4 separate regions of the Homo sapiens genome follow, and regions 1, 3 and 4 are each linked to region 2. Evidence: fine-mapped expression QTL. A gene starts in region 2. Each other region holds a variant in brackets. All regions are shown on one strand. Distances are between the middles of the regions. Region 1 holds the start of MIR4750 (microRNA 4750). Region 2 holds the start of SYT3 (synaptotagmin 3). Region 3 has its middle 10 kb from the start of SNAR-F. Region 4 has its middle 11 kb from the start of SNAR-A4.

Evidence for each region.
Region 1: its variant is fine-mapped to the expression of SYT3 in prefrontal cortex (GTEx, PIP above 0.99).
Region 3: its variant is fine-mapped to the expression of SYT3 in aorta (GTEx, PIP above 0.99).
Region 4: its variant is fine-mapped to the expression of SYT3 in prostate (GTEx, PIP above 0.99).

Annotation. Positions count from the first base shown.
Region 1 is chr19:49,885,930-49,894,031 of GRCh38, reverse strand. It overlaps TBC1D17 (TBC1 domain family member 17), which reads right to left. Exons shown (of 17, transcript NM_024682.3): 14 at 6,459-6,556; 15 at 6,198-6,314; 16 at 5,715-5,801; 17 at 5,282-5,608. The coding sequence ends at 5,408. It overlaps IL4I1 (interleukin 4 induced 1), which reads left to right. Exons shown (of 8, transcript NM_152899.2): 6 at 2,559-2,627; 7 at 2,925-3,061; 8 at 3,432-4,378. The coding sequence ends at 4,362. MIR4750 (microRNA 4750) reads right to left here and starts at 5,857; the gene lies at 5,802-5,857. It overlaps LOC124904743 (a long non-coding RNA gene), which reads left to right and starts at 6,556. Exons shown (of 4, transcript XR_007067293.1): 1 at 6,556-6,838; 2 at 7,269-7,586. RefSeq lists enhancers at 1,950-2,616, 2,617-3,285, 3,286-3,953 and silencers at 3,321-3,510, 3,741-3,910. The variant A/CA (reference allele first, on the strand shown) is at 4,487.
Region 2 is chr19:50,635,900-50,644,001 of GRCh38, reverse strand. It overlaps SYT3 (synaptotagmin 3), which reads left to right and starts at 4,121. Exons shown (of 11, transcript NM_001160329.2): 1 at 4,121-4,212; 2 at 4,840-4,977; 3 at 6,576-6,738. The coding sequence starts at 6,591. RefSeq lists an enhancer at 4,516-4,810.
Region 3 is chr19:50,611,085-50,619,186 of GRCh38, reverse strand. No RefSeq gene overlaps it. Among named protein-coding and RNA genes, the nearest start is that of SNAR-F, 10 kb to the right of the region's middle. The variant A/C (reference allele first, on the strand shown) is at 4,803.
Region 4 is chr19:50,077,965-50,086,066 of GRCh38, reverse strand. No RefSeq gene overlaps it. Among named protein-coding and RNA genes, the nearest start is that of SNAR-A4, 11 kb to the left of the region's middle. The variant C/T (reference allele first, on the strand shown) is at 3,256.

The sequences.
Region 1 (8,102 bases), 750 kb after region 2:
GTCATCTCTCAACTCCCTTCTTTTTTTTTTTTTTTTTTTTTTTTTTGAGATGGAGTCTTACTCTGTCACCCAGGCTGGAGTGCAATGGCGCCATTTCAGCTCACTGCAACCTCCGCCTCCCAGGTTCAAGCAATTCTCTGCCTCAGCCTCCCGAGTAGCTGGGATTACAGGCGCCCGCCACCACGCCCAGCTAATTTTTGTATTTTTAATAGAGACGGGGTTTCACCATCTTGGCCAGGCTGATCTTGAACTCCTGACCTCGTGATCCACCTGCCTCAGCCTCCCAAAGTGCTGGGATTACAGGCGTGAGCCACTGCCCCCGGCCCCAACTCCCTTCTTTAGCTTCCCCGTAAACACTGCTGACCCCAAAGCTGCATCAGCTTTTGGCCTCTTCCCCTTTCACCCACACACTGTCCTGGATAACCTCCCCAGTCTCCACCTCTGGCTTAAACATAGATCCATGGGCTGATGGAGACATCTGCCTCCCGAGACCCTGATCTGTGTCCCTCCCCAGGACACTGGGCTCAGAAGCTTCCCCTAAACCTGTTCCTCCTCCCGGTGCCCCCATCTCACGATGGCCCCACCATCCCGCAGTCACGGGCAGACCCCTAGGAGCCATCCTCCTCCTGACCTCCTCCTCGCCCACCTCCCCCACCATCAGTGCCCACCCCTGCCGCCTGACGCTTGTGCCCTGCTCCCCTCTGCCTGCCCCAGCTCAGGCCTCCTCCTCTGCCCTGGACCCTCCCCCAGCCTCCTCTCAAGCTGCCCAGGCTCTAGTCTCCCCAGCCTGGTACCAGAAACGTCTTCCCACACACCCAGAGTGATGCTGCTCACAGCCCCCAGTGGCTCCCCGCTGCCTCCAGGACAAAGTCTGATCTTTTCAGGCTCAGCTTTGAGCCCTGACTGGCCTTCCCTTCTGCACCCCTCCAGCCTCATGCTCTTTTCTCCTCTAAGAAATTTTTGTCCTCATGGTGGTCCACATGCCCCCAGCTCTGTGTTCCTCACACCCACTATACCTGTGTATCACCCTCCCTTTCCAGAATGCCTTTCCCTTCCCCACACAGGAACTCCTGCTCAGCCCTCAAGAACTAGCTCCAATGTCCCCTCCTCCAGGAAGCCTTCCCTGATACCTTTAGGGAGGAACTGGCCACACCCAACATCCCCTCCCCACCCAGGTCAGAGCCCACTTGCCCATCTCCCCTTCTAGACCAGGATGGGGGCCATGTCCAGGTCATTTCTATGCCTTGACACTGACTGGTTTGGGAGTCTGAGAGATGCGAGATGCATGAGTGAGTGAAGGGGCACTGCCTTCCCTCTGAGGTCCTGGCCAGAAGGGGGAAGCCAGGTGGACCAAGAAGAAGGCTGAAATTAGATGGGGGCAGCAAGGCTTCTGGGAGGGGGTGAGATTCGAACAAAGTGCTGAAGAACACGCACTCATGTGCCACGCAAAGACAGGCAGGGAAACAATAGGTGCCAGATGTGTAGGTGGGAGAGCCCTGAGGGCAGGTGGTCTGGGCACTGTACACTGTTCACAGAACCAGAGCTGCCATAAAAGACATGGACTGAGGTAAGTGGGGATCTTGGTTCTGCTGAGATTCAGGGCAAAGAGAGTGACCATGAGGCCTTCCCCAGAGAGTCAGAAGGCGGGTACCTGGCACGCAGTGGCTCACGCCTGTAATCCCAGCACTTTGGGAGGCCGAGGCAGGCAGATCACTTGAGGTCAGGAGTTCGAGACCAGCCTGACCAACATGATGAAACCCTGTCTCTACTAAAAATGCAAAAATGAGCCAGGTGTGGTGGCAGGCGCCTGTAATCCCAGCTACTTGGGAGGGTGAGGTGGGAGAATCACTTGAACCTGGGAGGCAGAGGTTTCAGTGAGCTGAGATGGCGCCACTGCACTCCAGCCTGGGCAACAGAGCGACACTCCATCTCAAAAAAAAAAAAAAAAAAAAAAGACATTGAGGGGCTAGCAGGGGCCTTGAACATGAGGCTGAGGGGCAAGAATTCTGTGGCTCCAGGCACTGGGGAGCTACAGGAGGGCTGTGGGCAGGGGACGGACGGTAGATAAACTTCTCAGCCATCATGCCCTGTCAGCACTGACCAGTGGCACAGGGGACCAGCTTCTGTCCGTGGCCACAGTGATTCAGGCAACAAATAATCACTGAGCCCCCGGGAGGACACAGCACGCCTGGGACCCTCTCCCAGTCTCCTCTCCAGCTGCCCACATCCCTGCCTCCATGGAGCTCACAGTCTGGCTGGCTGGCTGAAAAATAGGCAAAATAACACGCAACCGGGATGAGCTGTGACCAGCCGGGCCAGCCGAATGAGGGGGGATGGGCGGCGTTAACAGTTCGGTAATATCGGAGGAGCAGTGGCATCTGAGTTGCCGTGGAGGGCAAGGCGGAGGGCATGGTGTGGGCAAAAGCCCAGGGGCTTGAGAGTGGTGAATGGCCAGCCGTGGGCAGAACCACGAGGAGAAGCCGAGTGTGGGCTCCAGGCCCGGCCTCCACCCTGGCTGCCCGGGCAGCTCAGCACCATGTCTGCTTCTTCCACAACAGGCCCTCAAAGACCTCAAGGCACTGGGCTGCAGAAAGGCGATGAAGAAGTTTGAAAGGCACACGCTCTTGGTAAGTGGGGATCTTGGTTCTGCTGAGATGCAGGGCAAAGAGAGTGACCATGAGGCCTTCCCCAGAGAGTCAGAAGGCGGGTACCTGGCACCCTAGTCCTGCCACCGCCTTCCTGCCTGACCCGGGGGCTGGACACGCCCCCTGTCTGGACCTCCGTTTCCCTCATCTGTCAGAGAGTGGGGACAGGATCCTACGGTCCAAGGACATGTCATGGGACCAGGAGGCCCAGCTGCGGAGGGGCTCTCTCAGGGGTGCAGCCTGCCTGGGCCCTAACCTCGGCCTGTGCCCAACCTGCAGGAATATCTTCTCGGGGAGGGGAACCTGAGCCGGCCGGCCGTGCAGCTTCTGGGAGACGTGATGTCCGAGGATGGCTTCTTCTATCTCAGCTTCGCCGAGGCCCTCCGGGCCCACAGCTGCCTCAGCGACAGACTCCAGTAAGGGGCGGGGCTGGCGGGCAGGGGGGGGGGGCGGGGGGCAATCAGGGAAAGTAGCAGGGAGTGGGAGGAGCCTCTGGGTCTGGGGGCGGGGCTGTTGTGAAGGGCGTGGCCTAATTGATGGTCGCGGGGCTAAGGGTTCCCAGATAAAGGACACGGCCTAGGGGAGAAGTGGTGGGGTCCCTGGTGACACAATCCACTACTCCTGCGGCCTTTGGGATGTCAGGGACGGGCGGGGTCGGGAGAGGTGGATGACGGGGGAGCGGGCCGGTGCCCATAAGGGCCAGCTGCCGGGGTGGGTGGGGCAAGGCAGAGGGGCAGGGCCGCAGAGCCCAGGTCACGCCCCCACCCCGCCCCGCCCCGCCTGCAGGTACAGCCGCATCGTGGGTGGCTGGGACCTGCTGCCGCGCGCGCTGCTGAGCTCGCTGTCCGGGCTTGTGCTGTTGAACGCGCCCGTGGTGGCGATGACCCAGGGACCGCACGATGTGCACGTGCAGATCGAGACCTCTCCCCCGGCGCGGAATCTGAAGGTGCTGAAGGCCGACGTGGTGCTGCTGACGGCGAGCGGACCGGCGGTGAAGCGCATCACCTTCTCGCCGCCGCTGCCCCGCCACATGCAGGAGGCGCTGCGGAGGCTGCACTACGTGCCGGCCACCAAGGTGTTCCTAAGCTTCCGCAGGCCCTTCTGGCGCGAGGAGCACATTGAAGGCGGCCACTCAAACACCGATCGCCCGTCGCGCATGATTTTCTACCCGCCGCCGCGCGAGGGCGCGCTGCTGCTGGCCTCGTACACGTGGTCGGACGCGGCGGCAGCGTTCGCCGGCTTGAGCCGGGAAGAGGCGTTGCGCTTGGCGCTCGACGACGTGGCGGCATTGCACGGGCCTGTCGTGCGCCAGCTCTGGGACGGCACCGGCGTCGTCAAGCGTTGGGCGGAGGACCAGCACAGCCAGGGTGGCTTTGTGGTACAGCCGCCGGCGCTCTGGCAAACCGAAAAGGATGACTGGACGGTCCCTTATGGCCGCATCTACTTTGCCGGCGAGCACACCGCCTACCCGCACGGCTGGGTGGAGACGGCGGTCAAGTCGGCGCTGCGCGCCGCCATCAAGATCAACAGCCGGAAGGGGCCTGCATCGGACACGGCCAGCCCCGAGGGGCACGCATCTGACATGGAGGGGCAGGGGCATGTGCATGGGGTGGCCAGCAGCCCCTCGCATGACCTGGCAAAGGAAGAAGGCAGCCACCCTCCAGTCCAAGGCCAGTTATCTCTCCAAAACACGACCCACACGAGGACCTCGCATTAAAGTATTTTCGGAAAAAGCCGTGTGGTCCAGCCTCCCCCGTGGCTCAGTTACTTCCCCAGTTTGCCTGCATCGGAACCACTAGCCCTGCAGTTAGCAGGCGCCACGCCCATCCTGGAGCCCCCCC[A/CA]AAAATCTGCCCCTCACTTCTTCCTGGACAGTGGGGCTCCAGAGGAGGGTGGGGGGTGGTGCGCACAGAGGGAACCGGAAGGACGCCCTGCACCACCGGGAAATGGCAATCACAGCGACCACCTCTGTCACGAGGCTGAAGTCCAGATGGGCCCTAATGCAAGTAACAGAAAGCCCAGCTGACAGTGGCTGAACAGGAGGTGATTTTTCTCACAAGCAGCAGCTGGGAGGGCAGGCTCCCCAGAGTGCATCTCTGCAGGCCCTTCCACCTTGGTTATGTCCGGGAAGTGTTCCCACACAGCTACCAGGTCGCCGCCACAGCCCAGAGCACCCTATCCTCTTCCAAAAACCCCAAATCAGGCCGGGCGCGGTGGCTCACGCCTGTAATACCAGCACTTTGGGAGGCCAAGGCAGGCAGATCACCTGAGGTCGGGAGTTCAAGACCAGCCTGGGCAACATGGTGGAACCCCATCTCTACCAAAATTACAAAAATCAGCCGGGTGTGGTGGCACACGCCTGTAGTCCCAGCTACTCAGGAGGCTGAGGCAGGGTAATTGCTTGAACCCGGGAGGCGGAGGCTGCAGTTAGCCGAGATCTGCCACTGCACTCCAGCCTGGGCGACAGAGCAAGACTCCATCTCATAAAACAAACAAACAAAAAAACAAATCAGGCAACTCAGGAAGCCCTGCCTCCACAAACCCCAATCATTCACCCTAGGCTCTGCCCAGCCACCATCCCCTCCTCAACCAGGTCAGAGCCCACTTGGCAGCCTTCCCCCCACCAACAAGAAGCCAACTGCACATGAGAAGTGTCAGTTTAATGAAGCCAGCTTATCAGCAGGGCGGCGGAGCACACCTGCCCCCTCGCAGGTGTGCCTGGCTCGGGCTAAAGTGCCTGTGCAGAACGAGGCTGCCTGGCGGGGTTAGGAGTCGGCGCCCTCGTCCTCCTCCTCGGGCAGGATCTCCAGGCTGCTGTCGGGCTGCGGGGCTGTGTCCGTGGAGGGCGGCGGGGTGGGCGGGGCCCGGGTGGGCGACAGAGGCAGCGGGGAGGCGGTGGGCGAGGGGCTGTGGGGCTCTGCGGGCGGGGCCAGCCCCAGGATCTCCTGCACGTTGTGGGGCAGCTCCTGGAGGCACGGGATGAGAGAAGCGAAAAGCGGAAGGTGAAGGTGAGAAGGGGGCGGGGGTCGGTCGGGGTTCGGGCGGGGCGCTGCGGGGCGGACGGGGACTCACGGGGCAGGCGGTTAGCTGGCGGTGCAGGGCCTCGGCGCGGGTCAGCACGTCCTCCACGCTCAGCTTCATAGTCAGCTCGTTGATGTGCTGCGGGAGGGGGTGGGTCAGGCGCCAGTCGGCACTCAACCACCTCCGCCCGAGCGCCCACTCTGTGCTTCGTGCTGGGAAACAATGAAGACACACCGGGCTGGCCCTCTGGGGGCTCAGAAGTGCGCTGGGCGAGACATGCTTCTCAGGCCTCCGGGAGCATTCTGAGCACGTACTCGGGGAGGGAAGGTCCCCACCCACCTGCCCGGAGGACCTTGCTGGGAGCAGGCATGGCATGGGGCAGAAGGGAAACCTACGCGGCCCCACCCCCACTGCGCTCCCAACTAACCAGGCTTTCAATAATCCCACACTAAACACCTGCTCCCCGGAGGTACTGCGGCCCTGGGCAGCGCCCAGCTCAGGGGGGACAGGGCGGGGGCGGGGCCGGAGCCTCACCTTGAGGATCTCATTGGAGCCGAAGCCGGACAGCATGAGGGTGTCCCTCTCCATGTCCAGGATGGCGCAGGCCACCAGCAGGTGCAGATTGGGGCCAGGGAGCCCTGTCCACAGCACCTGAGGGTGCGGGACAGAGGGAGGGAGGGAGGTCATAGCCCAGCCTGGGCCTGAGGTCCCACCAGGGTCTGTCCCTCTCCGCCCAACCTCCCAGGGCAGGTGAGCCCACCCCTTCAGGCCTCTCGCCCAAACTGGCTGGCCCACCTCCCACAGCCGAAGGACATCCGGGAAGGGGAATTCCCTCTTGAACCAGATGAGCAGCCACCGGAAACAGAAGCAGAGAGAGCCGGAGTCCTGGGAATCTGGGGGATGACATGGAGCCCACTCAGCCTTGCCCAGCGCTGGGACTGAGAGTTTGAGAAGTCATCCTGACTGGAAGACCTTCCCCAAGTCTAGGCAAGTGACTTATGCCTGGCTGGGGAACCTCGGAGGTGAGGCAGGAGCAGCCCTGAACGCGGGCCCTGCCCCTCCTTCCTCCCACTCTCCAGAGGAAGTGTGCTATTATACTTCCACATCTGCCATGGACATGGAAGGGAGGCAGGACGCCCAGCACGCCCGACGAAACAGACCTCTGCCCGCTGCTGGTGAGCGCTAAGGGAACTGACACTCCTAGATACGCTGTAGCAAAAATTTAAGCTGAAGGCCGGGTGCGATGGCGCACGCCTGTAACCCCAGCACTTTGGGAGGGTGAGGCGGGTGGATCACCTGAGGTCAGGAGTTCGAGACCAGCCAGGCCAACATGGTAAAACCCCATCTCTACTAAAAATACAGCCTGGCCAACGTGGTGAAACCCCATCTCTACTAAAAATACAAAAATTAGCTGGGATGGTGCCACACCCCTGTAATTCCAGCTCCTTGGGAGGCTGAGGCAGGAGAATCGCTTGAACCCGGGAGGTGGAGGTTGTAGTGAGCCGAGATCACACCACTGCACTCCAGCCTGGGTAACAGAGCGAGACTCCATCTCAAAAAGAAAAAAAAAATTAAGCTGGTGTTGAACCTTTTTTTCCCCCCAAGTTAACTCAAATGAAAGTGAGAGTCTGAGCATTCTAACCTTTGAGGAAAGTAACAACGGAGGACAAACTCTCCAAAGCTGTGTGAAAACAAGCACTGTCCTGAACAAAATTCCACTTCTTGGAAGTGAACCTAAAGAAGAAATTACCCAGACTATGCACCGTGATGAAAAACTGCAAAGGACCCGAATCTCCAGCAGGTCAAGTTACATCAAATCTACCACATCTTGCAGGTGGACACAATGCCGCGCAGTCAAGAAAAGTGATGTTTCAGAAGACTTTGAATGACCCAGAGGCAGCCTCTGTCCTTGTGCCCTAGGAGGTGATGCTTTTCTATGGCTTAGTTTCCTCATCAGTAAGGTGAGGACAGAGTATCTCAGCTCCCTCCCCCGGGGGTCCTAAAGCATCGAGGAAATGTTCATGAATAAGTTTAACTTATTATCATCACCATCTGCACTCAAGAAAAACAATGATATCAAACAGCAACTTTAACTTTCTTTTTTCTTTTTTTTTGAGACAAAGTCTCGCTCTGTCGCCCAGGCTGGAATGCAGTGGTGCAACCTTGGCTCAAGTGATTCTCCTGTCTCAGCCTCCTGAGTAGCTGGGATTACAGGTGCTCGCCACCACCCCCGGCTAATTTTTGTATTTTTAGTAGAGACGGGGTTTCACCATGTTGGCCAGGCTGGTCTCGAACTCCTGACCTCAGGTGATCTGCCTATCTTGGCCTCCCAAAGTGCTGGATTACAGGCGTGAGCCACCACACCCGACCTTTTTTTTTTTTTTTTTTTTTTTTGAGGCAAGGTCTCACTCTGTTGCCCAGGCTGGAGTGCAATGGCAC
Region 2 (8,102 bases):
TTCCTTCTCCCTGGAGCATTTCCCCTCCCCTCCCTCATCTTCACCACCTGGCTTATGCCTACTCATCCTTCTGAGCTCAGCTGAAAAGTCACTTGCTCAGGAACTTCTCTGACCTCTCTCAAACACACAGCACAATGGATGTTCCTTCCTAGCATTGATCCTAGTATGAGGATCCTAGTATGTGTAGTTATTTGATTATTTTCTGTCTCTTCCACTAGACCATGAGCTCTTCCAACCCTGGAATTTTAGTCTATTTTGTTCCCAGATGAATCCCTGCTGTCTAAAAAAAAAAATGCCTGGCACACATTAGGTGCTCAGAAAGTATTTCTCAAATGACTGCATGAATCGAGTTGAATGAATATGGAAGATTCTATCTCTGTCTCCTGGCTCCCTGTCCGGTGTTCTTTATATTGTTCTATACTCCTAGCAGCAGTAGCATGCAAGTCCTCAAATGGGTCCTAGATGCAAACAGCATGGTGGCTAAAGGCAAGGGCTCTGGATTCAGATCCACTCCGTTTTTTGTTTTTTCTTTTTGTGTTTTGAGACAAGGTCTCACTCTGACATCCAGGCTGGAGTGCAGTGGCACGATCATGGCTCACTGCACTCCAGCCTGGATGTAAACGCACATCCATCCGGGGGGATGCAAGAAGGCACAAGGACGGGACTCTGGGCAGCCTCCATTTCCCCACAGCCTCGACTTCTGGGGCTCAAGCAATCCTCCCACCTCAGCCTCCCCCCAAGCAGGTGGGACTACAGGTGTGTGCCACCATGCCCGGCTAAATTTTGTATTTTTTGTAGAAATGAGGTCTCACTATGTTGTCCAGGCAAGTCTCAACTCCTGAGCTCAAAGGATCCTCTCACCTTTGGCCTCCCAAAGTGCTGGGATTACAGGTGTGAGCCACTGCACTTGGTCCAGACCCATACAGTTTTTAATCTCCACTCACACTTTCCAGATGTGTGATCTTGGGCAGAGCGCTTCCCTTGGTGAGCCTCAATTTCCTCACTTGTCAAGTCCAGCTAAAGTTTAAATGAGCAAATGCATTTAATTTTTATTTATGACAACACTAAACACTAGCCATTTTTCCTAAGCACCTTCCATGAATTTAATTTAACCCTCAAAATAACCCAGTGAGATACAATATGATTTTTTCTTTCTTTCTTTTTTTTGAGACAGAGTTTCACTCTTGTTGCCCAGGCTGGAGTGCAATGGCATGATCTTGGCTCACTGCAGCCTCTGCCTCCTGGGTTCAAGTGATTCTCCTGCTTCAGCCTCCCAAGTAGCTGAGATTACAGGCATGTGCCACCACGCCCGGCTAATTTTTGTATTTTTAGTAGAGACGGGGTTTCTCCATGTTGGTCAGGCTGGTCTCAAACTCCCGACCTCAGGTGATCTGCCAGCCTCGGCCTCCCAAAGTGCTGGGATTACAGGCATGTGCCACTGCACCCAGCCAGAGTATGATTTTTTAAAGTATTATTATCTGCACTTACAGAGAGGGAAACTGAGGCATGGAGAATCTAAGTAACCCCTCCAAGGTTGCATAGAGAGGGGAGCAGAGCTGGGATTTGAATCCCAGTGCTCTGCCCCCAAAGTCACACAGAAAACCAGTGCACTACGGCTGCCTCTCAATGCCTGGGCAGCCTCGGAATCCGAGCGTCTCTTTGGAAACGTGTCATGGCAGCGTGGCAAGCCCATCTGTGTGCCCATCTCTGAGTGTGTGCATCACTGCGTGTCTCTCCCTGTGGAACAGGGCTACCTGTGGACCCTGGGCAGGCCCAGCAGGGTTCAAGGGTCGGGCTGTTAGAGTTGGCATGGGGACCTGCACTCGTGGTCTGTAGGTTTACACCCGCACATGCTTCCCTGGATGTAAACACACATCCATCTGGGGGGATGCAAGAAGCCACAAGGAAGAGACTCGGCAAACCTGGGAGGCATTTCTGGGGGTTCTGTGGTAGTATAATGGCTGCAAAATGTACACATAGGCAGCAATAGGGGTAGGGTGTAATCTAATTAGAGGGAGGGCCCAGGATGCGTGCTTAAAGTTGTATTTGCAGAAGCAGCAAGCAATTTTTACTTTTATTTACTTACTTATTTTGACATTTTTATTTCTTGCTCTAAATATTTATTTATTTATTCATATTTATGTTTATTTTTGAGACAGGGTCTCACTCTGTCGCCCAGGCTGGAGCCCAGTGGCACAATCTTGGCTCACTGACTGCAACCTCCACCTTCTGGGTTCAAGTGATCCTTCTGCCTCAGCCCCCCAAGTAGCTAGGACTACAGGCATGCATCACCACACCCAGCTAATTTTTGTATTTTTTGTAGAGACAGGGTTTTGCCATGTTGCCCAGGCTGGTCTTGAACTCCTGAGCTCAAGTGATCCGCCCACTTGGCCTCCCAAAGTGCTAGGATTACAGGCATGAGCCACCGCACCTGGCTATTTATTCTTGAGATGGGGGTCTTGCTTTGTTGCCCAGGCTGGATGGAATGCAGTGGTGCAATCATAGCTCACTGCAGCCTCAAAATCCTGGGCTAGGCCGGGCGCGGTGGCTCACGTCTGTAATCCCAGCACTTTGGGAGGCCGAGGCGGGTGGATCACAAGGTCAGGAGATCGAGACCACGGTGAAACCCCGTCTTTACTAAAAATACAAAAAAAATTAGCCGGGCACGGTGGCAGGCGCCTGTAGTCCCAGCTACTCAGGAGGCTGAGGCAGGAGAATGGAGTGAACCCGGGAGGCGGAGCTTTCAGTGAGCCCAGATCGCGCCACTACACTCCAGCCTGGGCGACAGAGCAAGACTCTGTCTCACAAAAAAAAAAAAAAAAAAAAAAAAAAATTCCTGGGCTCCAGCAATCCTCCCACCTCAGCCTCCTGCGTAGGTGGGACTACAGGTGCACGCCACCACACCCACTAGTTTGGTTTTGTTTTGGTTTTTTGGTTTTTTTGTTTTGTAGAGATGGAGTCTCCTACGTTGTCCAGGATAGTCTCAAACTCCTGGCTTCAAGGGATCCTCCCACTTCAGCCTCCCAAAGTGTTGGGATTTACAGGTGTCAGCCCAGCCTTTGATTTTTACCTAGAGGTTGTATTTATTTGGATGTCACTGATTGAGAGCACTGAGGGGGCCTCCGAGCCACCTCTCCAGGCTATGTAGATCTAGATCAAGCTTGTCCAACCCATGGCCTGAGGCCCGCATGCAGCACAGGACAGCTTTGAATGCGGCACAACACAAATTTGTAAACTTTCTTAAAACATTATGAGATTTTTTTGTGATTTTTTTTTTCTCATCAGCTATTGTTACTGTTAGTGTATTTTATGTGTAGCCCAAGACAACAATGCAGTCCAGGGAAGCCAAAAGATTGGACACCCCTGATCTAGACCTTACCCAAGGGATTTAACCTCCATGGGCCTCAGTTGTCTCCTCTGTGAAATGGGAATGTCATAATTGCACCCAAGTGAAAATTAAATGAGAAAACGCTTTCAAAGCACTTAGCACTTCACCACTTATAGGAAATGACAATTGCCATTAACTGCTATTAATATACCAGAAACTGTTACTCACTACTTTTGAGAAATATTCATTAAGTACCTAGTTGGTACCAATGTTTTGTCTACACTGACCGGTTTTTCAAACTGTGGATCCCTTAGGAAATAAGTTTATGGTGTGTATTTTGCTGATGAGGAAACGGGGCCTCAGAGCAAGAGGCGCACACAGGCAGGAGTTGGCCCAGGTGGGATTCAAACCCAGGTCCCTGCTAGTACCTCTATCCTGGCTGTGGCACTGTACCTTTGAGTCTCAGCTTCCGCTCCTACCACCGGCCTTCAGAGCGGCTCAGGTTGGAGGGCCTGAAGTCCTGGGTTCCTGGGAAGAGGGGCCTGGGGTCCCCGGACTTCTACCTCTGTGAGATAGCGGGGCGGAGAACTGGGCCCCCGGACCCTGGAGAAGCAGCACGTCGTGATCCTAGATCTCTGGGTCCCCAGTGTGGAAACCCACTGGGTCTCTGCTGCCTTAGTCCCGGGCAATCTCCCTGCTTCCTTGCTGAGGCCAAGTGATTTCGGCTTTCTTGCCGCGGGTTCGGAGTGGGGGAAGGAGGGGGTGCAGGGGGAGGAGCCGCGGACCTGCGACAGTGGCGAGGGGAGGAGCCGAGCCGGCACCGCGGCTGGCGCGCGGGGCTGCGGCGGCGGCGGCGGCGGCAGCGGCGGCAGCGGCGGCTCCGGGTGAGTCCGCTCCTCCCCCTCCTCCTGCCACAGCCCCAGCCCCAGTCAAATCCCTGGGGTCGGCCCCGGCGCATGGGGGCGGGGTAGATGCAGAGGCGCGTGGATCTCGGGCCGGGGAGTGGGAGCGCTGCAGCGCTCTCTGGCCACCCCGGGGGAGGGGCACGTGGCCCTGGAAGGGGGTCCCGAAACACCTGGGTGTATCCCACCCCTCGCCCACCGATCCCCAGCGCGGGGGGATCGTTTCCTCATTCCGTGGCCCCTAAGGACTTAGGGCTCCGTGGCTTTTCGAAGTCCCGGACATCGTTCCCCTCCCCTGAAGCGTCTTGGGACCCCAGCATCTTAACCCCCCAAAACCTTAAAAAAAAAAAAAAAATCCCATCCTCTCTGCAGCCCGGAGGCATTAAGGACTTCAACTCCCAGCAGATCCTGCAGCGCCGGGTCTATGAAGCCGCAGCAGCGCGAGCGCGAGACCTGCCGGGAATTGTAGTCTCTAAGCCCTCAACGGGAGCTGGGGGCCCGGAGGTGGGAGGGGGTGGCCGGGCTCCCAGTGGGTCGCCTGGGGTCGGGCAGCTGGCTCGAGTAGGGCAAGATGTGACTGTTAAGCTGAGCTTTTTCTCCCGGCCTCAGCCCCTAGATCAGACATTCTCTCTCATTACCCGGCGCGTGGGAACGGGTCCACAGCCCCTTGTCCGCCCTAGAACCCCCATGGGCTGCCGCCCGCCGCCGCCTCGGCTGCCACCCAGGACACGGCAGAGATAAGCGCAGGTGAGTGTGGCCATGCCTGTCTTGGAGTCCTGGCCTTCTGCAGCACCCCCACGACACCTGTCCATCTGTGAGCCCTGGTCTGTCTGTTCCTAATTCCCCTGCATCCCCTTCAACCCATCTTGATGCCTGGCTCCGAGCCATGTGTCACTAATTCCCCCTCTCCCCACATCCACCTCTCCTTCCTAGCCTCCTCTCATTTATGTGCTCATTGAACCTTCCCTTATGAACCCATGTCTGTCTGCCCAGCCCTCCTGTCTCCTTTTGTCTATCTGCGATCTCTAGCCATCATCTGCTGTCCTTGCCCACCCATCCATCCTCCCGTTCGACCGTTTCTCTTTCAAAGATATTTCTGCCCACACTCCTGCCTGCCCCTCTTCACCGTCTCTCGTCCTCTCGTCTCTCAAGCCCCCGTGAATTAATTACATCTCGGTTCATTCCTTGTCACTGTCCATCCCAAGTCTCAATCCTTGACTTTCCTTCTGCCTGCCTGTTCACCTCTCCATCTCTTCGGAGCCTCAGTCTGCCCTTCACATTATCTCTGTCTCCCCTCCCTGTATCTCTCCCTCCCTCAACTTGGTCCCCATCTCTGCATCTCCACCTCTCCACCCCCAGCTCCCACCATACCTATCCACCTCCAATCTCTCTACCCACATCCATCCTTCTCTCCTGGCCCTCCCCGCGTCTACCCCAGTCTGGCCTCCTTGGTCCCTGGACCCTCCAACTGCTTTCCTACCCTAAGCCCCTGTCATCCTGCTCCTACTGTCTAAAATGCTTTTCTTTAAAATGCTTTTCCCATCCTGGCGCCACTGCCCCCCGCCTGTGGCTGGCTCCATGTCATCCTTCAGGTTTGGGAGAGCCCTCCCTGACCGCCCCCCTCTGAGTTCCTTTGTGACACATTCTCCAGCTGTGTCCTGTGGAGCGCTTCTCACAGACAGTCTGACAGTGACCGGTTTGTGTATGTGTTTTTGTTTGCTTGTTTACTCTATGTCTCCTCTCGTTGGATTGTGACACCGGGAGGTCAGGGAACTCCAGGACCTTGTTCTCTGCTGGATTCGCAGCAACCAGCACAGCACGTAGGGCGTAGTTGGTGCTGGATGGATGTTTGTTGAATGAATGAATGATGAATGGCTGGCACCTTGTCTGCTCATCCCTAACTCCTGTTCCTTCATCTGTGCAGCCCTAATCTTTGTTTCCTCATCTGTCCATCCCTTTATTTGTGCATCCTCATTCTTAGCCCCTTCACTGCCCTTCTCCATCTCTTCCTCCTTGTTCATTTGTCCCTGTTCTCTGTCCTCTACTCCACTCATGCCCATCTCTGTCCCCTTGACTTACCCAGTCCCTGCTACTATCTCCATCCCTAATTTCTGCCCTCTTGTCTGTCTACTCCTAATTCCTTTTCCTTGTCCATCCCTAATACCTGTCACCTTGTCCTTCTTCCTCGAATCTCCATCCCTAATCCATCTGCCCCTAATCTCTGTCCCCTTTGCCCATCCTTCCTTTTCTCGGTGTCTCTTTCCACCCTTATCTCCACACCTGCCCACCCTGCACTCCCATTCTGTTTCCCATCTGCACCCTTGCCCCATCCCTCCCACACACAGGACCAGACGGCCACCATGTCAGGAGACTACGAGGATGACCTCTGCCGGCGGGCACTCATCCTGGTCTCGGACCTCTGTGCGCGGGTCCGAGATGCTGACACCAACGACAGGTGCCAGGAGTTCAATGACCGAATCCGAGGCTATCCCCGGGGTCCAGATGCAGGTCAGCACCCCTGCCTGTCTTGGCCAGCCCCCTGCTTGCACTATGGCCAGGAGACTCGGAGCAGAACTGCTCAGCTTTCCATTGCTTGTGGGGTCAGTCCCTCGTAGCGTCTTGCCCCCATTCTGCCTGCTGCTGCCCTTCTCCCAAATCTCTGATCCAAGGGGAAGGAGCTGTGTGGTCTGCTTTTTGAGTTTTGCCCTGTGGGCCTCCCTCCGACTACCACCACCAAATGCCCCCTTCAGATATCTCTCTGCATCTTGTGCAAATGTCAGGCTCTTGAGTCAGACTGACTTGTTTGGGTTCAAGTCCCATCTCCCTCACTTTATTAATAACTGCATGGCTGTAGGTAAGTGACTCTTCTTCTGGGACTCAGTCTCCTCATCTGGAAAATGGGGATAATAAAAGGGATGCTTCATAGAGCAGATGAAAGACTTAAATGATATAACACCTACGAAGAACTTAGAACAATGCTGGGATTCACTTACTGAGCACCAACTGTGGTCCAGGCAGCATGCGAGGTCCTCTGCACATCTCAATGATTACTCACAGTGACCCTTTGTGGAACATATAATCCCCATTTTCAACAGAGGAAACTGAGGCTGAGAAGGGTGAAGTGACCTGTCCAAGGTCACACAGCTAGAAAGCAGCAGGGTTCTGGGAATGAGGAAACATTATGAGTGCCATTGTCCAGATGAGGAAACGGTGACCAGAGGAAGCATGTGCTGAGTGATTACAACCACAGTCACACTTGCTGAGCACCAGGGCAGGGTCTGGCACCTCATGTGCAGGATGTCCAGGTGACAGTCATGAGGGATAAGGCCGAGAGAGCAGCAGTCACTTGCCCAGAGGCTCAATGGTAGCAGAGGCAGAACTGAATCCTGCATAGTCTAGTACAGCACTGTAGTCTGGAGGTGCCCATGACCACCCTCAGGTTCAATGATTTGCTAGAATCATTGACTCACAGAACTCAGGAAACTGTTTTTGTTTGTCTGTCTGTTTGTTTTTGAGATGGAGTTTCACTCTTGTTGCCCAGGCTGGAGTGTAATTAATGGTGGGATCTCGGCTCACTGCATCCTCCACCTCCCAGGTTCAAGTGATTCTCCTGCCTCAGCCTCCAGAGTAGCTAGGATTACAGGCGTCTGCCACCACGCCCAGTTAATTTTTTGTATTTTCAGTAGAGACAGGGTTTCATCCTGTTCGCCAGGCTGGTCTCGAACTCCTGACCTCAAGTGATCCACCCGCCCCAGCCTCCCAAAGTGCTGGGATTACAGGCATGAGCCACCACGCCTGGCTGGAAACTGTTATACTCATGGTTATGGTTTATGACAGTGAAAGGATACAGACTGAAGTCAGCAAAGGGAAGA
Region 3 (8,102 bases), 25 kb after region 2:
AACCGGGTGTGGTAGCGAGTGCCTGTAATCCCAGCTACTTTGGAGGCTGAGGCAGGAGAATGGCTTGAACCTGGGAGGCGGAGGTTGTAGTGAGCTGAGATCACACCACTGAACTCCAGCCTGGGTGACAGAGTAAAAGAAAAGAAAAGAAGAGAAGAGAAGAAAAGAGAAAAGAAAAGGCTAATACGCAGGGGCAGAAAATGGATTAGTGGTTGACTGGGGGCAGTGGCAGTGGTTATGGAGAGACTGATTACTAGTGGACACAGGGAAACTTTCCGGATGATGGAAGTGATCACACAACCGAATACATTTGTCAAAATTCATTGCGCTTAAAATTGGTTCATTTAAATTCTTGTACATTGTTGCAAAATACACATAACACAAACTTTATCATCTTAGCCAATTTTTTTTTTTTGAGACGGAGTCTCGCTGCAATGCCCAGGCTGGAGTGCAATGGCATGATCTTGGCTCACTGCAACCTCCACTTCCCCGGTTCAAGCGATTCTCCTGCCTCAGCTTCCAGAGTAGCTGAGATTACAGGCATGAGCCACCTCCCCAGGACTTAGCCAATTTTAAGTGTACAGTTGCATTGTTGTGCAATCATCACCCCTACTCATCTCCACTCTTTCCTCTTGTAGAATTGAAACTGTTCCCATCAAGCAACTCCCACTGCCTTCCCTTCCCAGCCCCTGGGAAGCACGTTCTACTCTCTGGGAAATTCCCTATGAATTTGACTACTCTAGGTACCTCATGTAAGTGGAATCATACAGCATCTGTCTTTTTGTGATGGGATTGTTTCACTTAGCATGAATGTCCTCAGGCTTCACCCATGTTGTAGCATGTGTTAGCATTTCCTTCCTTTTTAAGGTTAAATAATTTTCCATTATGGGCCAGGCACAGTGACTCACACCTGTAATCCCAGCACTTTGGGAGGAAGAGGCAGGCGGATCACGAGGTCAGGAGATCGAGACCATCCTGGTCAACATGGTGAAACCCCATCTCTACTAAACTACAAAAAATTAGCCGGGCGTGGTGGCAGGCGCCTATAGTCCCAGCTACTCGGGAGGCTGAGGCAGGGGAATCACTTAAACCTGGGAGGCGGAGGTTGCAGTGAGCCAAGATCGCACCCCTGCACTCTAGCCTGGGCGACAGAGCGAGACTCCATCTCAAAAAAAAAAATCCATTATGTGTATATACCACATTTTGTCGAACCATTTATTTGTTGATGAACAGCTGGGTTGCCTCCTTCACCTTTTGGGTATTGTAAATAATGCTGCTATGAAAGTGTGTTGCAAATATCTTTTTGAAATATTGATACATTTTCTTGTACACAAATTATATTTTGATAAAGTTGGCTAAAACTAATACTCCCACCTAACATAACTATCTCTAGTGCAACTGCAGAAGCTTTCACCCCTTCTGCAAAGGGAGGGATCCCAAAGCCACATCCAATCCTCAGACCAAGATTTCTGGATATTGGCTATTCCTTTCATCAAGGGCACATGGAGTCTCTCTTGATCCTGAAAATTAATGTTAAGGCTGGGCACGGTAGCTCACACCTGTAATCCCAGCACTTTGGGAGGCCAAGGCAAGTGGATCACCTGAGGTCAGGAGTTCAAGACCAGCCTGGCCAGCATGGTGAAACCCTGTCTCTACTAAAAGTACAAAAATTAGCCCGGCATGGTGGCACACACCTATAATCCCAGCTACTCGGGAGGCCGAGGCAGAAGAATCACTTGAACCTGGGAGGCGGAGGTTGCAGTCAGCGGAGATTGTGCCACTGCACTCCAGCCTGGTGACAGAGCAAGACTCCATCTAAAAAAAAAATTAATGTTAAATGAAATTGTAGCCCCCTCAGCAACCCACCCCTGTGTATAACAGTGGAGGAAAAACAAGAAAACAATCACAATTCTCACTTGAAAGGGGAGGGAAGAGAAACAAAATAGTATATGCCATTTGCTGGACTTGCCAAGACTCCTCCACTTTCAAGAGACAAAAAACTGGCCTTTTAAAAAATTATTGCCAAGCTCGGTGGCTCATGCCTGTAATCCCAGCACTTTGAGAGGCTAAGATGGGAGGATCACTAGAGCCCAGGAGTTCGAGACCCAGCCTTGGCAACATAGCAAGACTCCATCTCTTTAAATATATATATATATATAAATAGCCAAGTGCCATGGTGTGCACCTGTAGTCCCAGCTACTCAGGTGGGAGGATCGCTTGAGCCCAGGAGGTCAAGGCTGCAGTGAGCCATGGTTGAGCCACTGCAGTCCAGTCTGGATGACAGAGACCCAGTTTCAAAAAAACAATTATTGAAGTACAACATACTCACAAAGAAACTCACAAATACCCAGTAAGTATGGATCAGATAACAGACTGAGCACACCATGTAACCATGGGTAACCAGCCCTGGGTCAGGAACTAGAACATTACCAGCTCTCCAAACCCCTCATGCTCCTTGTCAGTCACTTTTTTGTGTTTTTTTTTTTTTTGAGACAGAGTCTCGCCTGGAGTGCAGTGGCGCTATCTCGGCTCACTGCAAGCTCCGCCTCCTGGGTTCACGCCATTCTCCTGCCTCGGCCTCCCGAGTAGCCGGGACTACAGGCGCCTGCCACTATGCATGGCTAATTTTTTTGTATTTTTAGTAGAGACGGGGTTTCACCGTGTTAGCCAGGATGGTCTCGATCTCCTGACCTCATGATCTGCCCACCTCGGCCTCCCAAAGTGCTGGGATTACAAGCGTAAGCCACCGCGCCCGGCCCCTTGTCAGTCACTTCTTTACCTCAAAAGTAACTACTACCCTGATTTCTGACACCATAAGTTAGTTTGCCTTGTTTTTTATCTTAATCTGCTTGGAATCCTACAAGCATAGAGACTTGTGTGTTGGAATTCTCTCTTTTTTTTTTTTTTTTTTTTTTGAGACGGAGAGTCGCTCTGTCACCAGGCTGGAGTGCAGTGGCATGATCTCAGCTCACTGCAACCTTCGCCTCCCAGGTTCAAACGATTCTCCTGCCTCAGCCTCCTGAGTAGCTGGGATTACAGGTGCGCACTACCACACCCGGCTAATTTTTTGTATTTTTAGTAGAGACAGGGTTTCACCATGTTGGCCAGGATGGTTTCTATTTCTTGACCTTGTGATCTGCCCATCTCGGCCTCCCAGAGTGTTGGAATTACAGGCGTGAGCCATTGCACCTGGCCTGAATTGTTTTATTCATCATACGTCTATGAGATTTGTCCATGTAGTTGCTGATTGTTGGAGGTTGTTCATTGTCATTGCTGTATAAGAGTGTGTTATGAGCCAGGCATGGTGGCTCATGCCTATAATCCTAGCACTTTAGGAGGGTGAGGCAAGCAGATAGCTTGAGCACAGGAGTTCAAGACCAGCCTGAGCAACATAGCAAGACCCCGTCTCTACAAAAAAAATACAAAAATTAGTGGGGTGTGGTGGTGCGTGCCTGTCATCTCAGCTACTTGGGAAGCTGAGGTGGGAGGATGGCTTGAGCTTGGGAGGCAGAAATTGCAGTGAGCTGAGATCACACCACTGCACTACAGCCTGGGTGACAGAGGACAATCTTGTCTCAAAAAAAAAAAAGTGTGTTATGGGAATACATAATAATCTATGTATCCATTCTACTGTTGATTGACATTTAGGTGCCTTCTGATTTGGCATGATCACTTATAGTACTGCTATATACATTGAATTTTGGTGAACATATGTAGGCATTTCTGTATTTCTGTTGGGTATATACCTAGAAGTGTAATTGCTGGGTCCCAGGGTGTATACATGGTGTGTGCATGTTCATCTTTTTTTTTTTTTTGAGATGGGAGTGGCCAGGCTGGTCTTGACCTCAGGTGATCTGCCGCCTCCCGAAGTGTTGGAATTACAGGCGTGAGTCACCATTCCCAGCTTCATGTTCATCCTTCATAGACACTGCCAACCAGGTTTTCAAACTAATTTTCTCCATTTATACACCCACTAGCAGTCTCTGAGAATTTCAGTTGCTCGCCAACATTTGGTATTGTTAGTCCTTTCAATTTTAGCAATTCTGGTGGGGCTGTAGCCGTGTTTTATTATGGTTTTAATTTACCTTTAGCCCAATGCCTAAAGAAATTTAACACCGTTTCGGGCCAGGCGCAGTGGCTCATGCCTGTAATCCCAGCACTTTGGGAGGCCGAGGCGGGTGGATCACGAGGTCAGGAGATCGAGACCACGGTGAAACCCCGTCTCTACTAAAAATACAAAAAATTAGCTGGGCGCGGTGGCGGGTGCCTGTAGTCCCAGCTACTCAGGAGGCTGAGGCAGGAGAATGGCGTGAACCCGGAAGGCGGAGCTTGCAGTGAGCCAAGATCACGCCACTGCACTCCAGCCTGGGAGACAGAGCGAGACTCAGTCTCAAAAAAAAAAAAAAATAGAAAGAAATTTAACACCATTTCAAATATTAATTGGCCATATGAATATGCTACTTTGTGAAATGTCAATTCACGCCATTTGTCCACTTTTTGACTGGTTTTTCTGCCTTTTTTAAAAAACAGGTTAGTAGTTCTTTCTTTATTTTTCTTATGAGTCTTTTGTTAGAATACATATTCTTCTCCCACTCTCTGGCTTCTCTTTTCATTCTCTTAGTGGTATTTTTTGATAAGGATCAGTTTCTATTTTAATATAGTCCAATTTATCAACATTTTCCTTTATAGTTAAGGCTCCTTTGTTTCTGGTTTAAGAAATATTTTCTGGCCAGGCACACTGGCTCATGCCTGTAATCTCAGCACTTTGGGAGGCTGAGGAGGGAGGATCACATGAGCCTAGG[A/C]GTTCGAGACCAGCCTGGGCAACATAGCGAGACCCTATCTCTATTAACACAAACAAGTAAATAAAAGAAATATTTTCTTACCCTGAAGGTTCTGAAGATACTCTATGATATTTTCTTCTAGAAGTTTTATTGTTTAAGCTTTAACATTTAGATCTACAACACATCTGGAATCAATTTTTGTGTATGGTGTGAGGTAGAGGTCATATGGCTATCAACTGGCTCAGCCCTATTGATTCAAAAAGATCATCTTTTGCTTCTCACTGCACTGAAATGTTGCTTTTGTCATAAACCAAGTTACCATATATGTGTGAACTTTTCCTGATTTTTCCGTCTTGTTCTTTTGGCCTATTTGTTTTTCCTCGCAAGAGTATGCTGCTTTAATTATTATTATAATAAGCCTTGCTCTCTGGAAAGTACTCTGGCTTTTTTTTGTTTTTAACAAAGGGAATTTGTTGACTTATAGAACCGAGCTGTATAACTAGCTTCAGGCATAACTGGATCCAGGCACTAAAATGAATCTTTAGCAATACAGCTCATTTCCCATCTGGGCTTTACTTTTCTGTATCTTGACTTTCCTCTCAGGCAGAATCTCTTCCCTCACGGTGACAAACAGGGCCCACAGCAGCTCAAAGTTTCCATACTATCATTTTAACAACCTAGCAGAAAAGAGGTACTGCTTTCCTGAATGGTGATACCAAAGTCTCAAGGTTAGCTCTCATTGGTCCAACTTGGGTCACATGTCCATTTCTATAGTAACCATGTGTCTTAGTCCATGTTGTCTTGCTATAAAGGAAAACCTGACGCTGGGTAATTTTTATTTTTATTTATTTATTTTTTTTTTTTGAGACAGGATCTTGCTCTGTCACCCAGGCTAGAGTGCAGTGGTGCAATCTTGGCTCACTACAATGTCCGCCTCCCAGGTACAAGTGATTCTCCTGCCTCCAGTGTAGCTGGTATGACAGGTGCCCGCCACCACACCTGGCTAATTTTTTGTATTTTTAGTAGAGACAGGGTTTCACCGTGTTAGCCAGGCTGGTCTCGAACGCCTGACCTAAAGTGATCCACGAGGCTGGGTAATTTATAAAGAGAAAAAGGTGTATTTGGCTTATGATTCTTCTGGCTGGAAGATTGGGCATACAGAGAAAGTCTTGAGCTGCTTCTACTCTTGGTGGAAGGAGAAAGAAAGCAGGGATCACGTGACAATAGAGGAAGCAAGAGAGGCAAGTGTCAGCCTCTCTTTAACAACCAACTCTAATGGGAACTAATGGAGGAAGAACTCACTCACCCACACTCCCAGGGAGGGCATTAATCTATTTGTGAGGGGTCCACCCCTGTGACCCAAACACCTCTCATTAGGACCCCATCTCCAACATTGGGGATCAAATTTCAACAACGAAATTTAGAAGGCAGCCTGGCCAACACGGGAAAACCCCGTCTCTCCTAAAAATACAAAAATTAGCCGGGCGTGGCATGTGCCTGTAATCCCAGCTACTCAGGAGGCGGAGGCAGAAGGGTCACTTGAACCCAGGAGGTGGAGGTTGCACTGAGCCAAGATTGTGCAACTGCACTCCAGCCTGGGTGACAAAGCAAAACTCTGTCTCAAAAAAAAAAAAAAAAAAAATTGGATGGGACATACATCCAAACTACTGCACATCATAACCAAGGTCATGAAGCACTCAGATTGGCCAGGTCTGACTCTTGTTCTCACTCTGAAATCCCTGGCAAGATCCAGTTAAAAAATGTATATTTTGCATGGGGAGGAGTGATAGGAAAATCAGATGTTTAAGAGAACAAAAAGAGAAGCTATAGATTGTGAGAAAATCTTTTCAAAACACCTTTCAGACAAAAAGCTGGTATCCAGGCCAGGTGTGGTGGCTCACATCTGTAATCCCAGCATTTTGAGAGGCCGAGGTGGGCGGATCACCTGAGGTCAGGAGTTTGAGACCAGCCTGGCCAACGTGGCAAAATGCTGTCTCTACTAAAAATACAAAAATTAGCCAGTCATGGTGGTGGGCGCCTGTAATCCCAGCTACTCGGGAGTCTGAAGCAAGAGAATCACTTGAACCTGGGAGGCGGAGGTGGCAGTGAGCTGAGATTGCGCCATTGCACTCCAGCCTGGGCAACAGAGCAAGACTTTGTCTGAAAAAAAAAAAAAGAAAGAAAGAAAAAGAAAAAAGAAAGCTGGTATACAAAGAACTAAAACTCAACAATAGGAAAACAAACAACCCAATTTAAAAATAGGGAACAGATCTGAACAGACACTTCAACAAAGAAGATATGCAGATGGCAAATAAGTAAATAAAAAGATAGTTGGCCAGGTGTGGTGGCTCCCGCTTATAATCCCAACACTTTGGGAGGCTGGGGCAGGAGGATCATTTGAGGCCAAGAGTTTCAGACCAACCTAGGCAACACACTGAGACGCCATCTCTACAAAAAATAAAAATAAAAAGGTCAGATGTGGTGGCTCACACCTGCAATCCCAGCACTTTGGGAGGCCACAGCTGGTAATTCCCTTGAGCTCAGGAGGTCAAGACCAGCCAGGCAACGTGGTGAAACCCCATCTCTACGAAAAATACAAAAAACTAGCCAGGTGTGGTGTTGCACACCTGTGGTCTCAGCTACTTGGAAAGGTGAGGTCGGAGGATCACTTGAGTCTAGGAGGCAGAGGTTGCAGTCAGCAGAGATTCCAGTGCCACTGCATTCCAGCCTGGATGACAGAGCGAGACCCTGTTTCTAAATAAATAAATAAATAAAATAATAAAAATAGAAATAAAAAAATAGCCAGGTGTGACAGCACACAACTGTAGTCCCAGCTACTGGGGAGGCTGAGAAGGAGGATCTAAGAGTTGGAGGCGGCAGTGAGCTATGATTGCACTGCTGTACTCCAGCCTGGGCAACAGAGACCCTGTTTCTTAAAATAAATAAATAAACAAACAAACAAATAAATAAAAGGTACTTGGGCCGGGCGTGGTGGCTCACACCTGTAATCCCAGCACTTTGGGAGGCCAAGGTGGGCAGATCACCTGAGGCGAGGCATTCGAGACCAGCCTGATCGACATGGAGAAACCCCATGTCTACTAAAAATACAAAATTAGCCAGGCGTAGTGGCGCATGCCTGTAATCCCAGCTACTTGGGAGGCTGAGACAGGAGAATCACTTGAACCTGGGAGGCAGAAGTTGCAGTGAGCCGAGATCATGCCATTGCACTTCAGCCTCGGCGACAGAGCAAGACTCCGTCTCCAAAAAAAAGCGGGGCTCAACATCAAATGTCATTAGGAAATTGCAAATTACAGCAACGAT
Region 4 (8,102 bases), 560 kb after region 2:
CGCCATTGAGCACTGAGTGAACCAGACTCCGTCTGCAATCCCGGCACCTCGGGAGGCCGAGGCTGGCGGATCACTCGCGGTTAGGAGCTGGAGACCGGCCTGGCCAACACAGCGAAATCCCGTCTCCACCAAAAAAATACGAAAACCAGTCAGGCGTGGCGGCGTGTGCCTGCAATGGCAGGCACTTGGCAGGCTGAGGCAGGAGAATCAGGCAGGGAGGTTGCGTGAGCCGAGATGGCAGCAGTACAGTCCAGCTTCGGCTCGGCATCAGAGGGAGACCGTGGAAAGAGAGGGAGAGGGAGACTGTGGAAAGAGAGGGAGAGGGAGACCGTGGGGAGATGGGAGAGGGAGAGGGAGAGGGAGAGGGAGATGGAGAGGGAGCGGGTTGTTTGTTTTCTTATTGTTAAGTTTTAGTTCTTTGTATACCAGCTTTCTTTTCTCTTTTTCTTTTTCTTTCTTTCTTTTCTTTTTTTTCAGACAAGGTCTTGCTCTGTTGCCCAGGCTGGAGTGCAATGGCGCAATCTTAGCTCACTGCCACCTCCGCCTCCCAGGTTCAAGTGATTCTCTTGCTTCAGCCTCCCGAGTAGCTGGGATTACAGGCACCCACCACCATGCCAGGCTAATTTTTGTATTTTTAGTAGAGACAGGGTTTTGCCACGTTGGCCAGGCTGCTCTCAAACTCCTGACCTCAGGTGATCCGCCCACCTCAGCCTCTCAAAATGCTGGGATTACAGATGTGAGCCACCACACCTGGCCTGGATACCAGCTTTTTGTCTGATAGGTGTTTTGAAAAGATTTTCTCACAATCTATAGCTTCTCTTTTTATTCTCTTAAACATCTGATTTTCCTATCACTCCTCTCCATGCAAAATATACATTTTTTGACTGGATCTTGCCAGGGATCTCAGAGTGAGAACAAGAGTCAGACCTGGCCAACCTGAGTACTTCATGACCTTGGTTATGATGTGCAGTAGTTTGGATGTATGTCCCATCCAATTTTTTTTTTTTTTTTTTGAGACAGAGTTTTGCTTTGTCACCCAGGCTGGAGTGCAGTTGCACAATCTTGGCTCAGTGCAACCTCCACCTCCTGGGTTCAAGTGACCCTTCTGCCTCCGCCTCCTGAGTAGCTGGGATTATAGGCACATGCCACGCCCGGCTAATTTTTGTATTTTTAGGAGAGACGGGGTTTCCCCGTGTTGGCCAGGCTGCCTTCTAAATTTCGTTCTTGAAATTGGATCCCCAATGTTGGAGATGGGGTCCTAATGAGAGGTGTTTGGGTCACAGGGGTGGACCCCTCACAAATAGATTAATGCCCTCCCTGGGAGTGTGGGTGAGTGAGTTCTTCCTCCATTAGTTCCCATTAGAGTTGGTTGTTAAAGAGAGGCTGACACTTGCCTCTCTTGCTTCCTCTATTGTCACATGATCCCTGCTTTCTTTCTCCTTCCACCAAGAGTGGAAGTAGCTCTAGACTTTCTCTGTATGCCCAATCTTCCAGCCAGCAGAATCATAAGCCAAATACACCTTTTTCTCTTTATAAATTACCCAGCCTCGTGGATCACTTTAGGTCAGGAGTTCGAGACCAGCCTGGCTAACATGGTGAAACCCTGTCTCTACTAAAAATACAAAAAATTAGCCAGGTGTGGTGGCGGGCACCTGTCATACCAGCTACACTGGAGGCAGGAGAATCACTTGTACCTGGGAGGCGGACATTGTAGTGAGCCAAGATTGCGCCACTGCACTCCAGCCTAGGTGACAGAGCAAGATCCTGTCTCAAAAAAAAAATAATAAAATAAAATAAAAATTACCCAGCGTCAGGTTTTCCTTTATAGCAAGACAACATGGACTAAGACACATGGTTACTATAGAAATGGACATGTGACCCAAGTTGGGCCAATGAGAGCTAACCTTGAGACTTTGGTATCACCATTCAGGAAGGCAGTACCCCTTTTCTGCTAGGTTGTTAAAATGATAAGCTAGGTTGTTAAAATGATAGTATGGAAGCTTCGAGCTGCTGTGGGCCCTGTTTGTCACCGTGAGGGAAGAGATTCTGCCTGAGAGGGAAGTCAAGATACAGAAAAGTAAAGCCCAGATGGGAAATGAGCGGTATTGCTAAAGATTCATTTTAGTGCCTGGATCCAGTTATGCCTGAAGCTAGTTATATAGCTCGGTTCTATAAGTCAACAAATTCCCTTTGTCAAAAACAAAAAAAGCCAGAGTACTTTCCAGAGAGCAAGGCTTATTATAATAATAATTAAAGCAGCATACTCTTGCAAGGAAAAACAAATAGACCAAAAGAACAAGACGGAAAAATCAGGAAAAGTTCACACATATACGGTAACTTGGTTTATGACAAAAGCAACATTTCAGTGCAGTGAGAAGCAAAAGATGATCTTTTTGGATAAATAGGGCTGAGCCAGTTGATAACCATATGACCTCTACCTCACACCATACACAAAAATTGATTCCAGATGTGTTGTAGATCTAAATGTTAAAGCTTAAACAATAAAACTTCTAGAAGAAAATATCATAGAGTATCTTCAGAACCTTCAGGGTAAGAAAATATTTCTTTTATTTACTTGTTTGTGTTAATAGAGATAGGGTCTCGCTATGTTGCCCAGGCTGGTCTCGAACTCCTAGGCTCATATGATCCTCCCTCCTCAGCCTCCCAAAGTGCTGAGATTACAGGCATGAGCCAGTGTGCCTGGCCAGAAAATATTTCTTAAACCAGAAACAAAGGAGCCTTAACTATAAAGGAAAATGTTGATAAATTGGACTATATTAAAATAGAAACTGATCCTCATCAAAAAATACCATTAAGAGAATGAAAAGACAAGCCAGAGAGTGGGAGAAGAATATGTATTCTAACAAAAGACTCATAAGAAAAATAAAGAAATAACTCCTACTAACCTGTTTTTTAAAAAAGGCAGAAAAACCAGTCGAAAAATGGACGAATGGCGTGAATTGACATTTCACAAAGTAGCATGTTCATATGCCCAATAAATATTTGAAACAGTGTTAAATTTCTTTCTTATTTTTTTTTTGAGACGGAGTCTCGCTCTGTCTCCCAGGCTGGAGTGCAGTGGCGTGATCTTGGCTCACTGCAAGCTCCGCCTTCTGGGTTCACGCCATTCTCCTGCCTCAGCCTCCTGAGTAGCTGGGACTACAGGCACCCGCCACTGCGCCCAGCTAATTTTTTGTATTTTTAGTAGAGACGGGGTTTCACCGTGGTCTCGATCTCCTGACCTCGTGATCCACC[C/T]GCCTCGGCCTCCCAAAGTGCTGGGATTATAGGCATGAGCCACTGCGCCTGGCCCAAAACGGTGTTAAATTTCTTTAGGCATTGGGCTAAAGGTAAATTAAAACCATAATAAAACACGGCTACAGCCCCACCAGAATTGCTAAAATTGAAAGGACTAACAATACCAAATGTTGGCGAGCAGCTGAAATTCTCAGAGACTGCTGGCGGGTGTATAAATGGAGAAAATTAGTTTGAAAACCTGGTTGGCAGTGTCTATTAAGGATGAACATGAAGCTGGGAATGGTGACTCATGCCTGTAATTCCAACACTTTGGGAGGCGGCGGATCACTTGAGGTCACGACCAGCCTGGCCACTCCCATCTCAAAAAAAAAAAAAAAAAGAGGAACATGCCCACACCATGCATACACCCTGGGACCCAGCAATTACACTTCTAGGTATATACCCAACAGAAATACAGAAATGCCTACATATGTTCACCAAAATTCAATGTATATAGCAGTACTGTAAGTGATCATGCCAAATCAGAAGGCACCTAAATGTCAATCAACAGTAGAATGGATACATAGATTATTATGTATTCCCATAACACACTTTTTTTTTTGAGACAAGATTGTCCTCTGTCACCCAGGCTGTAGTGCAGTGGTGTGATCTCAGCTCACTGCAATTTCTGCCTCCCAAGCTCAAGCCATCCTCCCACCTCAGCTTCCCAAGTAGCTGAGATGATAGGCACGCACCACCACACCCCACTAATTTTTGTATTTTTTTTGTAGAGACGGGGTCTTGCTATGTTGCTCAGGCTGGTCTTGAACTCCTGTGCTCAAGATATCTGCTTGCCTCACCCTCCTAAAGTGCTAGGATTATAGGCATGAGCCACCGTGCCTGGCTCATAACACACTCTTATACAGCAATGATAATGAACAACCTCCAACAATCAGCAACTACATGGACAAATCTCATAGACGTATGATGAATAAAACAATTCAGGCCAGGTGCAATGGCTCACGCCTGTAATTCCAACACTTTGGGAGGCCGAGATGGGCAGATCACGAGGTCAAGAAATAGAAACCATCCTGGCCAACATGGTGAAACCCTGTCTCTACTAAAAATACAAAAAATTAGCTGGGTGTGGTAGTGCGCACCTGTAATCCCAGCTACTCAGGAGGCTGAGGCAGGAGAATCGTTTGAACCTGGGAGGCGAAGGTTGCAGTGAGCTGAGATCATGCCACTGCACTCCAGCCTGGTGACAGAGCGACTCTCCGTCTCAAAAAAAAAAAAAAAAAAAAAAAAGAATTCCAACACACAAGTCTCTATGCTTGTAGGATTCCAAGCAGATTAAGATCAAAAACAAGGCAAACTGACTTATGGTGTCAGAAATCAGGGTAGTAGTTACCTTTGAGGTGAAGAAGTGACTGACAAGGGGCCGGGCGCGGTGGCTCACGCCTGTAATCCCAGCACTTTGGGAGGCCGAGGTGGGCAGATCATGAGGTCAGGAGATCGAGACCATCCTGGCTAACACGGTGAAACCCCGTCTCTACTAAAAATACAAAAAAATTAGCCAGGCATAGTGGCAGGCGCCTGTAGTCCCGGCTACTCGGGAGGCCGAGGCAGGAGAATGGCGTGAACCCAGGAGGCGGAGCTTGCAGTGAGCCGAGATAGCGCCACTGCACTCCAGGCGAGACTCTGTCTCAAAAAAAAAAAAAAAACACAAAAAAGTGACTGACAAGGAGCATGAGGGGTTTGGAGAGCTGGTAATGTTCTAGTTCCTGACCCAGGGCTGGTTACCCATGGTTACATGGTGTGCTCAGTCTGTCATCTGATCCATACTTACTGGGTATTTGTGAGTTTCTTTGTGAGTATGTTGTACTTCAATAATTTTTTTTTTGAAACTGGGTCTCTGTCGTCCAGACTGGACTGCAGTGGCTCAACCATGGCTCACTGCAGCCTTGACCTCCTGGGCTCAAGCGATCCTCCCACCTTAGCCTCTTGAGTAGCTGGGACTACAGGTGCACACCATGGCACTTGGCTATATATATATATATATATATATATATTTTTTTTTTTTTTTTTTTAAAGAGATGGAGTCTTGCTATGTTGCCAAGGCTGGGTCTCGAACTCCTGGGCTCTAGTGATCCTCCAATCTTAGCCTCTCAAAGTGCTGGAATTACAGGCATGAGCCACCGAGCTTGGCAATAATTTTTTAAAAGGCCGGTTTTTTGTCTCTTGAAAGTGCAGGAGTCTTGGCAAGTCTAGCAAATGGCATATACTATTTTGTTTCTCTTCCCTCCCCTTTCAAGTGAGAATTGTGATTGTTTTCTTGTTTTTCCTCCACTGTTATACACAGGGGTGGGTTGCTGAGGGGGCTACAATTTCATTTAACATTAATTTTTTTTTTAGATGGAGTCTTGCTCTGTCACCAGGCTGGAGTGCAGTGGCACAATCTCCACTGACTGCAACCTCCGCCTCCCAGGTTCAAGTGATTCTTCTGCCTCGGCCTCCCGAGTAGCTGGGATTATAGGTGTGTGCCACCATGCCGGGCTAATTTTTGTACTTTTAGTAGAGACAGGGTTTCACCATGCTGGCCAGGCTGGTCTTGAACTCCTGACCTCAGGTGATCCACTTGCCTTGGCCTCCCAAAGTGCTGGGATTACAGGTGTGAGCTACCGTGCCCAGCCTTAACATTAATTTTCAGGATCAAGAGAGACTCCATGTGCCCTTGATGAAAGGAATAGCCAATATCCAGAAATCTTGGTCTGAGGATTGGATGTGGCTTTGGGATCCCTCCCTTTGCAGAAGGGGTGAAAGCTTCTGCAGTTGCACTAGAGATAGTTATGTTAGGTGGGAGTATTAGTTTTAGCCAACTTTATCAAAATATAATTTGTGTACAAGAAAATGGATCAATATTTCAAAAAGATATTTGCAACCCACTTTCATAGCAGCATTATTTACAATACCCAAAAGGTAAAGGAGGCAACCCAGCTGTTCATCAACAAATAAATGGTTCGACAAAATGTGGTATATACACATAATGGATTTTTTTTTTGAGATGGAGTCTCGCTCTGTCGCCCAGGCTAGAGTGCAGTGGTGCGATCTTGGCTCACTGCAACCTCCGCCTCCCAGGTTTAAGTGATTCCCCTGCCTCAGCCTCCCAAGTAGCTGGGACTACAGGCGCCTGCCACCACGCCCGGCTAATTTTTTGTAGTTTAGTAGAGATGGGGTTTCACCATGTTGACCAGGATGGTCTCGATTTCCTGACCTCGTGATCCGCCTGCCTCTTCCTCCCAAAGTGCTGGGATTACAGGTGTGAGCCACTGCACCAGGCCCATAATGGAAAATTATTTAACCTTAAAAAGGAAGGAAATGCTAACACATGCTACAACATGGGTGAAGCCTGAGGACATTCATGCTAAGTGAAACAATCCCATCACAAAAAGACAGATGCTGTATGATTCCACTTACATGAGGTACCTAGAGTAGTCAAATTCATAGGGAATTTCCCAGAGAGTAGAACGTGCTTCCCAGGGGCTGGGAAGGGAAGGCAGTGGGAGTTGCTTGATGGGAACAGTTTCAATTCTACAAGAGGAAAGAGTGGAGATGAGTAGGGGTGATGATTGCACAACAATGCAACTGTACACTTAAAATTGGCTAAGTCCTGGGAAAGTGGCTCATGCCTGTAATCTCAGCTACTCTGGAAGCTGAGGCAGGAGAATCGCTTGAACCGGGGAAGCAGAGGTTGCAGTGAGCCAAGACCATGCCATTGCACTCCAGCCTGGGCATTGCAGCGAGACTCCGTCTCAAAAAAAAAAAAAATTGGCTAAGATGGTAAAGTTTGTGTTATGTGTATTTTGCAACAATGTACAAGAATTTAAATGAACCAATTTTAAACGCAATGAATTTTGACAAATGTATTCGGTTGTGTGATCACTTCCATCATCCGGAAAGTTTTCCTGTGTCCACTAGTAATCAGTCTCTCCATAACCACTGCCACTGCCCCCAGTCAACCACTAATCCATTTTCTGCCCCTGCGTATTAGCCTTTTCTTTTCTCTTTTCTTCTCTTCTCTTCTTTTCTTTTCTTTTACTCTGTCACCCAGGCTGGAGTTCAGTGGTGTGATCTCAGCTCACTACAACCTCCGCCTCCCAGGTTCAAGCCATTCTCCTGCCTCAGCCTTCCAAGTAGCTGGGATTACAGGCACTCGCTACCACACCCGGTTAATTTTTGTATTTTTAGTAGAGATGGGGTTTTACCATGTTGGCCAGGCTGGTCTTGAACTCCTGACCTCGTGATCCACCTGCCTCGGCCTCCCAAAGTGCTGGGATTACAGGGTGAGCCACCGTGCCTGGCCTCTGGCCCCTTTCTTTCTTTCTTTCTTTCTTTCTTTCTTTCTTTCTTTCTTTCTTTCTTTCTTTCTTTCTTTGTGTCTCTCTCTCCTTCCTTCCTTCTCTCTCTCTCTCTCTCTTTCTTTCTTTCTCTCTTTCTTTTTTGAGTTGGAGTCTCACTCTGTTGCCCAGGCTGGAGTGCAGTGGCATGATCGGCCCACTGCAACCTCCGCCTCCCGATTCTCCTACTCAGCCTCCCAGGTAGCTGGGATTACAGGTGCCAGGCTGCTTTTGAACTCCTGATCTCAAGTAATCCGCCTGCCTCAGCCTCCCAAAGTGCTAGGATTACAGGCGTGAGCCACCATGCCCCGCCCATATTAGTGTTTTCTTTCTACAATTTCACAAAAGTGGAATCCTACAGCATATACCCTTGTATCTGGCTGTATCACACGGCATCATGTTTTTGAGATGCAGGGCAGCAGTGCCATCACAGCTCACTGCAGCCTCAAACTCCTGGGCTCAAGTGATCCT